Regions from separate parts of the Homo sapiens genome. Here region 2 is linked to region 1. A link means that fine-mapping ties the variant in region 1 to the expression of a gene that starts in the linked region. Tissue or cell type: amygdala. Region 1 holds a variant in brackets; the other region holds the start of a gene. All regions are shown on one strand. Distances are from middle to middle.

The links. PIP is the estimated chance that this variant, and not a neighbour inherited with it, causes the effect.
Region 2: MBOAT7 starts here. The variant in region 1 is fine-mapped to the expression of MBOAT7 in amygdala (GTEx, PIP 0.99).

What each region holds. Positions count from the first base shown.
Region 1 is chr19:54,158,201-54,163,387 of GRCh38, reverse strand. LENG1 (leukocyte receptor cluster member 1) reads left to right here and starts at 3,667. Exons shown (of 4, transcript NM_024316.3): 1 at 3,667-3,824; 2 at 4,927-5,106. The coding sequence starts at 3,693. It overlaps TMC4 (transmembrane channel like 4), which reads left to right. Exons shown (of 15, transcript NM_144686.4): 9 at 229-355; 10 at 618-715; 11 at 1,103-1,286; 12 at 2,128-2,258; 13 at 2,355-2,510; 14 at 2,843-2,921; 15 at 3,014-3,280. The coding sequence ends at 3,082. RefSeq lists an enhancer at 3,665-4,334. The variant G/C (reference allele first, on the strand shown) is at 2,916.
Region 2 is chr19:54,187,440-54,192,567 of GRCh38, reverse strand. It overlaps MBOAT7 (membrane bound acylglycerophosphatidylinositol O-acyltransferase MBOAT7), which reads left to right and starts at 2,988. Exons shown (of 8, transcript NM_024298.5): 1 at 2,988-3,230; 2 at 4,057-4,135; 3 at 4,222-4,351. The coding sequence starts at 4,060. It overlaps TSEN34 (tRNA splicing endonuclease subunit 34), which reads right to left and starts at 1,260. Exons shown (of 4, transcript NM_001077446.4): 1 at 961-1,260; 2 at 604-847; 3 at 195-452. The coding sequence starts at 1,203. RefSeq lists enhancers at 1-324, 2,293-2,974, 2,975-3,660 and a silencer at 1,169-1,370.

The sequences.
Region 1 (5,187 bases):
AGTGAGCTGAGATCGCGCCACTGCACTCCAGTCCGGGTGACAGAGTGAGACCCTGTCTCAAAAAAAAAAAAAAAAAAAAGAAAGAAAGAAAGAAAGAAATCCTGATTCTGTCACTGGGCCTCAGCTTCATCTGTGAGATGGGTTGAATGCGGGCGCGTTCCACTGAGAAGGGAACTGCCACATGGTGGGTACCGGGTCAGGGCCCATTCTCTGCCTTCCCCCCTTCAGGACCGTGTTTCTTCGCCTCGCCTCCCTGGTGGTCCTGCTCTTCTCTCTCTGGAATCAGATCACTTGTGGGGGCGACTCCGAGGCTGAGGACTGCAAAACCTGTGGCTACAATTACAAACAACTTCCGGTGAGAACGGCATGGGTGTGCGTGGGACTCTTGGGTCCCTGAAGGAAAGATGGAGCTGGGTGGGTCCAGACTCTTGGTTTGGGCGGAGAGGGGAGCTTGGGGTGCTGGAACACTCTCCCAAGGGTATGAAAGTTTGAAAAACGAGGACCCCCAGAGAAAGTATTGACAGGGTCTCATAGGCTTGCGATGTGGAGACTCGGACGCGTGGGCCTCCAGGTGCCCGGGTCCCGAGTTCTTTCTGATATATTTCTTCCTTCTTCAGTGCTGGGAGACTGTCCTGGGCCAGGAAATGTACAAACTTCTGCTCTTTGATCTGCTGACTGTCTTGGCAGTCGCGCTGCTCATCCAGTTTCCTAGAAAGTGAGAGCCCCGCCCCTTGCTGTGGCCCCGCCCCTCTAGGACGAGGCCGTGCCCCATCGCGCTGTTCTTTTCACCGCGCACCTTTTTACCATTCCCGCCTCTGCCTGCTCCCTTTGCTTGCCCTAGGTCCGCAGATCTCCCCGCTCCCCGCCCTTGTTTTAGTGGGTTACTTCCCTCTGGCCCCGACGGCGGCGACATCTGGGTCCCTTCTAGTCCTCAGGACCCGCCCTCTGGACACACCCCCTCCACGTGGAGTCCTGAAAGTCCCGCCCCCCCCCCCCCCACCACCAATACGCATGCTTCCTATTGGCGGGCGGGGCGGTGGAGGCGTGGAAACTCCAGGCCGCCACTCCCCTGACTCCGGCCCGGCCCCGCCCCGTCCTTCAGGCTCCTCTGTGGCCTCTGTCCTGGGGCGCTGGGTCGTCTGGCGGGGACCCAAGAGTTCCAGGTGCCCGACGAGGTGCTGGGGCTCATCTACGCGCAGACGGTGGTCTGGGTGGGGAGTTTTTTCTGCCCTTTACTGCCCCTGCTTAACACGGTCAAGTTCCTGCTGCTTTTCTACCTGAAGAAGGTAAGGGGTAGGGGGGACCCTTGGGTCTGAGGCAGGAGGTATTGGGGCCCGCACTCCTGGGTCAAGGGCAAGGAAGATCCTGGGGGCCTGGATTACTCGGTCCTGAGAGAGGAGGGGGTTGGAGGACAGACTACTGCATCTGAGAGGAGGGGTCTAGGGCATTCTGACTTATATGTCTGAGGATCTGGGGACTCAGACTCCGGGGTCCTAGATGAGGAAGGGGCTCAGACTCCTGGTTCGGAAAAAAGGAGAGGCAGGTAGGCCGGGTGCAGTGGCTCACGCCTGTAATCCCAGCACTTCGGGAGACTAAGGCGGGTGGATCACCTGAGGTCAGGAGTTTGAGACCAGCCTGGCTAACATGGCAAAACCCCGTCTCTACTAAAAATACAAAAAAAATTAGCCGGGCTTAGTGGCAGGCGCCTGTAATCCCAGCTACTCAGGAGGCTGAGGCAGGGGAATTGCTTGAACCAGGGAGGTGAAGGTCGAAGTGAGCCAAGATCGTGCCACTGCACTCCAGCCTGGGCGACAGAGCGAGACTCCGTCTCAAAAAGAGAAAACAAACAAACAACAACAACAGCAAAACAAATTAGCCGGGAGTGGTGGTGCACACCTGTAATCCCAGCTACTCGGGAGGCTGAGACACGAGAATAGCTTGAACCCGGGAGGGGAGGCTGCAGTGAGAGCCACTGCACTCCAGCCTGGGCGACAGAGCGAGACTCTGTCTCAAAAAAAAAAGCCTGGGCGACAGAGCGAGACTCTGTCTCAAAAAAAAAAAAAAAAAAAAATGGAGGCACAGACTCTTGTGTTTCAGAGCCCTTTTCTCCGTGCCTTCCCCCACCAGCTTACCCTCTTCTCCACCTGCTCCCCGGCTGCCCGCACCTTCCGGGCCTCCGCGGCGAATTTCTTTTTCCCCTTGGTCCTTCTCCTGGGTCTGGCCATCTCCAGCGTTCCCCTGCTTTACAGCATCTTCCTGTAAGTGCGAGAGGCTCCCGCCTCTCTCCCTCCCTCTCTCCCCATTCAGTGTTCAGACTCCTGGCACTATGTGAGCCCAGCCTGTCTTGACTTCAGGATCCCGCCTTCTAAGCTGTGTGGTCCATTCCGGGGGCAGTCGTCCATCTGGGCCCAGATCCCTGAGTCTATTTCCAGCCTCCCTGAGACCACCCAGAATTTCCTCTTCTTCCTGGGGACCCAGGCTTTTGCTGTGCCCCTTCTGCTGATCTCCAGGTGAGACGGCCCAGACTTCTGGGTCTGGGTTTGAATGCGTGTGATCTGGGGGCCACCACCTGCGTCCAAGAGAGGAGAGGCTTGGGCGTGGGAGCAGGCAACGTACTGAGTCTGAGGGAGGAGGCCTAGGCTCCTGGACTGCTGGGTCCGAAGGAGGAGGTGGGCGGGACGTAGGACTCCTGGATCTGAAGGCGGAGGGGCTGGGAGACTGAACTCCTTGAGCCCAGACGAGGAGGGGCTTAGGCGTCCACATCCCTGGCTTCGAAGGAGCCAGACGTTTGGATATAATGGAAGAGCGTGTCAGGAGTGGCTTCCGTTCCTGTCTCCTTCAGCATCCTGATGGCGTACACTGTGGCTCTGGCTAACTCCTACGGACGCCTCATCTCTGAGCTCAAACGTCAGAGA[G/C]AGACGGTGAGCCAGGCGGGTCCCTGAGAGGGCCCCTGGGGAACATGGAAAGGGGTTGGGGAAGAGGATTGTCTCACCTCCACCTCTCTTTGCCCCAGGAGGCGCAGAATAAAGTCTTCCTGGCACGGCGCGCTGTGGCGCTGACCTCCACCAAACCGGCTCTTTGACCCCCGCAGCCCACGTCCCGCTTTCAGACCCCAGGCCCATTGTAAGCCTAGGTCACAACATCTGTAAACTAGGAGAACTGGAGAAGACTCCACGCCCTTCCAGCTTTGGTATCTGGAGATTTCCAGGGCCCCTCGCCGCCACGTCCCTGACTCTCGGGTGATCTTCCTTGTATCAATAAATACAGCCGAGGTTGCTGAGCGCGCTTTGAAATCTGCGTCCTGAAGGTGGGGGCAGGGCTACAGCGGGGCAGGAGCCAATCAAATGTACGGGCATGTTTGTCGGTGCAGAGCGCTCTTCCGCAAGGAGACTTGTCGGTCATGTCGGCCAATCGACGGCCGCATCTGGTAGCATCAGGGGCGGGCCAACTTATGATTGGTTCAGATCTGTGACAAGAGGCGGTTGCTAGGGGATACCACGAGCCGAACGCCTAGCATTCGCTGTGATAAAGGGCGTCTCAGCCAATCACCTGTCGCTACAGGCCAGGGGGCCGTACCAACTAATTCGGAACCAATCCGCGGTCGAAGTAGGGACAAGAAAAAGGGGGGCATCCTCTCGCCAATCGGAAGTGCAAAGAGGCGGGCGTGCCAGTCCCTGGACAGCTACGACGCCATGAATATCTTGCCCAAGAAGAGCTGGCACGTCCGGAACAAGGACAATGTCGCCCGCGTGCGGCGTGACGAGGCCCAGGCCCGGGAGGAGGAGAAGGAGCGTGAGCGGAGGGTGCTGCTGGCTCAGCAAGAGGTAAGCTCGGAAGCCGGCAGGGCGGCGCTCCGGGGCCCAGCGCGCAGGCGCCGCGGTTGGGGGCCGGAAGCGGAGGCGTTGCGCAGGCTCAATGTGCCCCGTGTGAAATTCGGGACCAGGCGCCGATCCCACTTTCGAGGACGTTGCCCCGCAAACCTTGTGCCCACTTCCACGAAACCTTCCTTGATCTCGCCCTCGTCTTAGTTTTTCCCCCACTGATGTATTTCACATGGCTGGAACAGTGTCTAGCACAAAAGAGAAGCTTAACATTTAATGAATCCGTGAACCCTTGGACAGTTCAAGGAAATTCGGATCACTTTTTAGTTTGCCTGCACAGCCTATTTATTGAGCATCTACTGTATGCTAACTACATGCCGTGCACCTGACTTGCGGAATCCCCAATAAGCACTGTTCGTTCTTAGAGGGGCACTGTCATCTCTGTTGCACGAAGTGAGATGGCTTCAGTGAGGGGAAGGCACATTTTAAGGAGAGGCGGACAGCCAGGCTCCACGCCATCGGGCGAGCCCTTTCGTGCACCGCCCCCTAGACACATACACACAAACACGGGCTTTCCGTATGGCTCTTTAAATCTGTTTGGTGTACACCCAACTTTCATTTCCTTAGCTAGTCTGATCCTCCGCCGTGGGTGGGAGGTAGTCTAGGTTTTTAGAATCTCAGTAGGCTGCTGAGCGCTGTTTGAAATCCGCGTCCTGAAGGCAGGGGACAGGGCTTCAGCAGACTTGGGGTAGTCACTTGGAGCCATGGCTAGAATTCAGATCGTCTGGCCTAATGCATACCTTTATGGCTGTTTTAATTGTCTCACTTGAGGTTAGGAACCCCTTTGGTTTAGGCCAGGGACCTCCTCCCATACATCCTTGATGACCCGTGGTTTACTATTTGAAAGGGAGTTTACAAAACCCAGGCGTTGCCTCATCTGCCTACCCTCACCCCCAGCTAGGACAGGTGCCTCTTTTAGGCGCCTAGTGCTCCCTTTCTCATAACCCCAGCACCCTGGACTGCCATTTTCTGTGGTGGGCACCAGACTCACAGTTCTTGAATTACCTCTAGGTTCTGAATGTCCTGCCTATAACTTTCTCCCCAGGCCCGTACAGAATTCCTACGGAAGAAAGCCAGACATCAGAACTCACTGCCTGAGCTTGAAGCAGCAGAGGCGGGAGCCCCAGGTTCTGGCCCTGTGGACCTGTTTCGGGAGCTGCTGGAGGAAGGGAAAGGAGTGATCAGAGGCAATAAAGAGTACAAGGAAGAAAAGCGACAGGAGAAAGTAAGCTGGCCTCACCCACTTCATCAGAGGGGCCATGAATCGAGTTGGAGGGAGGGGGCACTTTAGCCATTGGTTGTGACC
Region 2 (5,128 bases), 29 kb before region 1:
ATGCAGCTGGGCCTATAATTCCAGCACTTTGGGGGGCCGAGGTGGAAGGATTGCTTGAGCCCAGGAATAGGGACCAGCCTAAGCAACAAGAGACCCCACCTCTATTAAGACAAAAAAAAAAAAAAAGAAAAACGCAGAATACATTGGGATCGTATGGAAAGGCACAGCAACCAGAGGCCCCAACCCATACTCACCAGGATAGACCAGGAAGTCACCTCCGAACTTGCCAGCCGCACTGAGGAAGAAGCCTCGCTCCCACAGGTCTCTGTAGATACTGTAGCGCAGCTCGTGGGCAGGGCGGCCGGCGTGGGGCCAGTCTTTAGACTGGACACGCCAGTCCAGGGGCCTGGCCTTGACCGGTCGAGGCCTGGCAGTGGCCAGCTGGACAAGGAGAGCAGATCTGGGCAAGGGGGCTACCCCATTTGAGGGTCCTGCTTGGGAAGACGAGGGGCCTGGTGGGGAGTACAGAGAAGAGTTTGGTAAATTCAAGGGGTAAAGTCTTCTCACCCTCAGGGAGACCCAGGCACTGGATTCCCAGCTAAAATTCCTAAAAGATCTCTCCTCTCCTTCCCGTGGTCCCTGGACTCCACCTCCCATGCTCACCAGCTTCCTCCTGCTCTCCCGAAGCCTGGCCATCACTGGTCTCATCCTCTTTGGCAGCCTGGCTCGAGCCGGCCTCCTGGCTTGAGCTGGCCCCTGAAGCCTGTTCTAGTTTCTGCTTCTTAGCAGCCTGGCCCTCCGTAATCTTCTCCAGGAGCTCCTGACGACGGGTCTCCCGGGCCTCAGCTGCCAAGGCGCTCTGCTCCTGGAAGCTCTCCTCTTGCTGGCGCTTGAAGGATGTCAGGGCCTGAGAAGCACACTTCGCTGGAACCTCCAAGCTTATGGTCCCTTCAGAAGCCAGGAAACTTGACTCCCAGGTCCCGCTCCCACCGAACCCGAGTTCGAGCCCCGCCCCCTTACCAGGCTGTGGTGCCGAGAGTCTGGACGCGGGGCGCTGACCAGAGTCACGGCGCCGATCTCGGCCAAGAGCCGCGCCTCTTCGGGCATCAGCAGCAGCGGGAGGCCCAGGCGCGAGTTCTGGCGGGGCCCGCGGGGCAGGGCGCCTACCGTGCGGCCCCCCACACCCAGGCGCTCCCGGAGGGCCTGCACCGCCTCGGCTCCCCACACCAGGGAGCGGCCGTTCGCCACCTCCACCACCAGCATCCTCCTGCGGGAGCCGGGAGGCAAAGCAGTTACCGAAACAGCTGCGCGCCGCGGACCGCTGCAGCGCACCCAAAGCCTCCGGGGTCTCGGCGAAGCCCCGCCCCTAGGCCTCAGGGGGCGGGGCCTCGCTCAGCCGCCGTTCACCACCTGCTGGGCCCGAGCGCCAGGCCCCGCCCCCGGGCGATCCCACCAGGCCTCGCGGCCGCCGGAGACGAGACGCCGGAGACAAGCCCCCGACCCTCTCCCCTCGCCAAGCCCCCAGGGTCCCGCTCTACCCTTGTGACCCTGCGGTCGGCACCCGCTCTGTGCCCGCACTGCCGTACCTACCATTGCGCCTTGGAGCGTGAAAAACAAACCTCCGCAAGCGCGGCGACACGCCCCCTTACAAAGGTCCATTTTGGCACCACCCTCTTGCAAAGTGGGCGTCCCCCTTCGGGTGTTCCCGTCAGCGGTCAGAAGCTCTGGAGGCTAAGGCACCGCCGAGGCCACACCCTCTTCCGGACGCTCGAGCCTTCGCTCCTCCTCTTTCCGAACGACTGTGATTCGGCTTTCGGACCTCCTCGCTCTCAGACTCCCACAGTACAAAACCCTGCCCCCTCCCGAGCACAGGAAGTTCGGCGTTCGGGCGTCCTCGGCTCCACCGAATCCGCAGCCCCGCCCCCTTCTCGAACGCCAGCAATTTGACGTTCGGGTGTTCTCGGCTCGGCCGAATCCGTAGCCCCGCCTCCTCCCGGACGCAATAGGTTCGGCGTTCGGGCGTCATCGGCTCCCGGCAGCCTCGCGGCCTGTGGCCCCGCCCCCTCCGAGCGCCAGCGCACCCCAGTTGGGGAGTTCCCGCCCTACGACCGAACCCCACAGCCGAAAGCCCCGCCCCCTGGACACCCGCCGTCCACTCTCCGCTCGGGCGGGCTCACCCCAATTGGGAGCGCTCAGTCCGCCTCCTTGCCTCCCTTCAGAATGTCCCACTGTCCACCGATAGAACCAGCGAGTCACCTCATAAACAGTAATTCGCAGTCGAGGTGGAGCCACCCACTGCGCACCGCGCCACGCGCTCCTTGCTCCACCCCCTCATGCCGACACCCTCGTCAACTTCGTCATCCCGCCCCATCAGCGCCGCGGGAAGTCAGGTCCCGCCCCTCGCAGGACCGAAGCCCCGCCCTCCTCCCGCGGGGGCCACCTTGGCTCCGCCCCACTGAGCGCACCTCCCTCTGCCGCTTCCTCTCCTCTACTTGGGAACTTGAGGATCGTCATCCTGGCCCGGTCCCGTAGGCGCACGCCGGCCCTCGGGGTTCCGCCCCTTTGAGGGCAAGTCGCTTTCGCCCCGCCCCCTTGTAAATACTCATGGGTGTCTGGCGAACCTGTTGACTCCGCCTATCATCCTAGCGTCACTTGTACCCAACTATCTACGAAGTAAACCGAAGCTTGTGGCCCCACCCACATCCGGCCGAGTCTGTGGCCCCGCCCACATCGGAACAGTGACCCTAAGGACTCGACTACCTCCGAAGAAAGCCGAAACATGTGGCTCCGCCCACAGTGGCCTCAGCTCTCCGTTCTCGACTATTGCCGAAGTGAGCCGAAGTTTGTGGCCCCGCTTCCGGAGAACTCAAGCTCCCGATTGTGCCCGAAGGAACCCGAAGGGAGACCCCGCCTCATTCCTCACGCCGAGCTCCAGACCCCGCCTCCTTTCCAGAGCCCGTCTGTTCCCCTTCGGGTCCAAAGCTTTTGGCTCCTCCTTGTTCCGAGCCCGAAGGCCCGCCCCTTCACGTACTCGGAGCTCGGATCCCAGTGTGGACCTGGACTCGAATCCCGTTGCCGACTCGCGCTCTCGGCTTCTGCTCCGGGGCTTCTTCCCTGCCCGCCCGGGGCCCTGACCGTGGCTTCTTCCCCGGCCTGATCTGCGCAGCCCGGCGGGCGCCCAGAAGGAGCAGGCGGCGCGGGGGCGCGCTGGGCGGGGGAGGCGTGGCCGGAGCTGCGGCGGCAAGCGGGCTGGGACTGCTCGGCCGCCTCCTGCCCGGCGAGCAGCTCAGGTGGGCCAGGGTGGCGGCGCCCAGTGGCGAGGCGAGGTTACACGGCGGCAGGGTCTCTGCGGGCTGGCGGGTGCGGGGCGGCCCCGGAGGCGCGTTGGAACTCGGGGCTGGCGCAACCGCCTGTGGCTCTGCCGGGGATGCGCTGGGGTGCGCGGGACGGGTTGGGGCTGGGCCTGGGCCTGGGCCTGGGGAGGGGAGGGTGTTCGATCCCCGGGTTCTCAGTAGGAGAGGGGTGTGGAGCTCCGAAGGAGGTGCAGGTTGGAGACCCGGGCTCCTCTGGGTGGTCTCGAAGGAGAAGGGCTGGGGGGTCCGGATATCTGGTTTCACAAGGGCCGGGGGATGGGGGATCCAAAGAGGGGGTCTGGGTTCCTGGATCCTCGCTGGAAGAGGGGGCTCGGAGGTCTAGATTCCTGGGCTGTCGAAGAGGAAGGGTCCGGGAGGGGTGCCGTTTCTGGGTTTTTAAAAGAGGGGCGTCTTCAAATCTGGGTCCCCAGTATGGGTGCGGGGAGTAGCTTTGATTTCTGCGTTCGCAAAGGAGGGGCTTGGGTGCTGGGAGATCCCCACACTTTCCTGGGTTCTCCAAGGACAGGAGAGCTGGAGGCCTGTGCGCTCAAAGGAGGGGCTGGGGGTGGATTCCTGTCTCCTCCAAGGAGGAAGGGGCTGGAGTCTGGGTTGCTAGGTTCTCAAAGGAGAGGAGCTGAGGCTCATACTCCATCATCCTCAAAAACTGGGGTCTAGAAGGCTGGGTTCCTGGATCCTCGAAGAGGGAGGAGGCAGGGGGCCTGGATTCCTGGGTTCTCACTGTGAATCTCTGCCCCTCCCCCAGACCATGTCGCCTGAAGAATGGACGTATCTAGTGGTTCTTCTTATCTCCATCCCCATCGGCTTCCTCTTTAAGAAAGCCGGTGAGTCAGGCTCCCTCCCCAGTGGAAAATAAAGGGGGGGGACCCTCTGGAAGGTTCCAGGCTTATGCTGTCCCTTCCCCCTGCAGGTCCTGGGCTGAAGAGATGGGGAGCAGCCGCTGTGGGCCTGGGGCTCACCCTGTTCACCTGTGGCCCCCACACTTTGCATTCTCTGGTCACCATCCTCGGGACCTGGGCCCTCATTCAGGCCCAGCCCTGGTGAGAATTTGGTGGAGGGAGGAGAGGGAGAGGAGGGGAGAGGGGGAAGCAACCTGTTTCCTCTTTGAGTCTTTTTCAGCTTCTGCCTCATGTCTAGCTGTCTCTTGTTGATCAGCTCATTTCTCTGTTTCATGTTTGTTTGTTTGTCTTTCTTTCTTTCTTTCTTTCTTTCTTTCTTTCTTTCTTTCTTTCTTTCTTTCTGAGATGGAGTTTCGCTCCTGTTGCCCAGGCTGCAGTTCAGTGGCACGATCTTGGCTCACTGCAACCTCCACCTCCCGGGTTCAAGCGATTCTCTTGCCTCAGCCTCCCAAGTAGCTGGGATTACAGGCATGCTCCACCATGCCTGGCTAATCTTGAATTTTTAATAGAGCTGGGGTTTCTCCATGTTGGTCAGGCTGATCTCGAACTCCTGACCTTGTGATCTGCCCACCTCAGCCTTCCAAAGTGCTGGGATTACAGGCGTGAGCCACCGCATCCGGCCTTCATCTGCTTTTCTTTCTCCCCTGCCTTCTGCGTCTGGTCCCTGTGTGTTTGTCCCAGTCCGCTACATCCATGTCATGGAGAGAGGTGGACAGTGTGTCTGCTGGCCTGGCCACCGTTCATATTCATTCATATCCACCTCTCTCTTCTTGAGCCCTGGACCTCGGAAATAAAGAAAAAGTGGAGGATTGCAGGGTCTTCACCCGAAGCTTCTCTTAACCTCATTCTCTGTTGGTGTGTGTTTCTATGTGGCTGAGCCTCTTCTCCCACTGTTTCAATCATACTCATTCGGTCCCT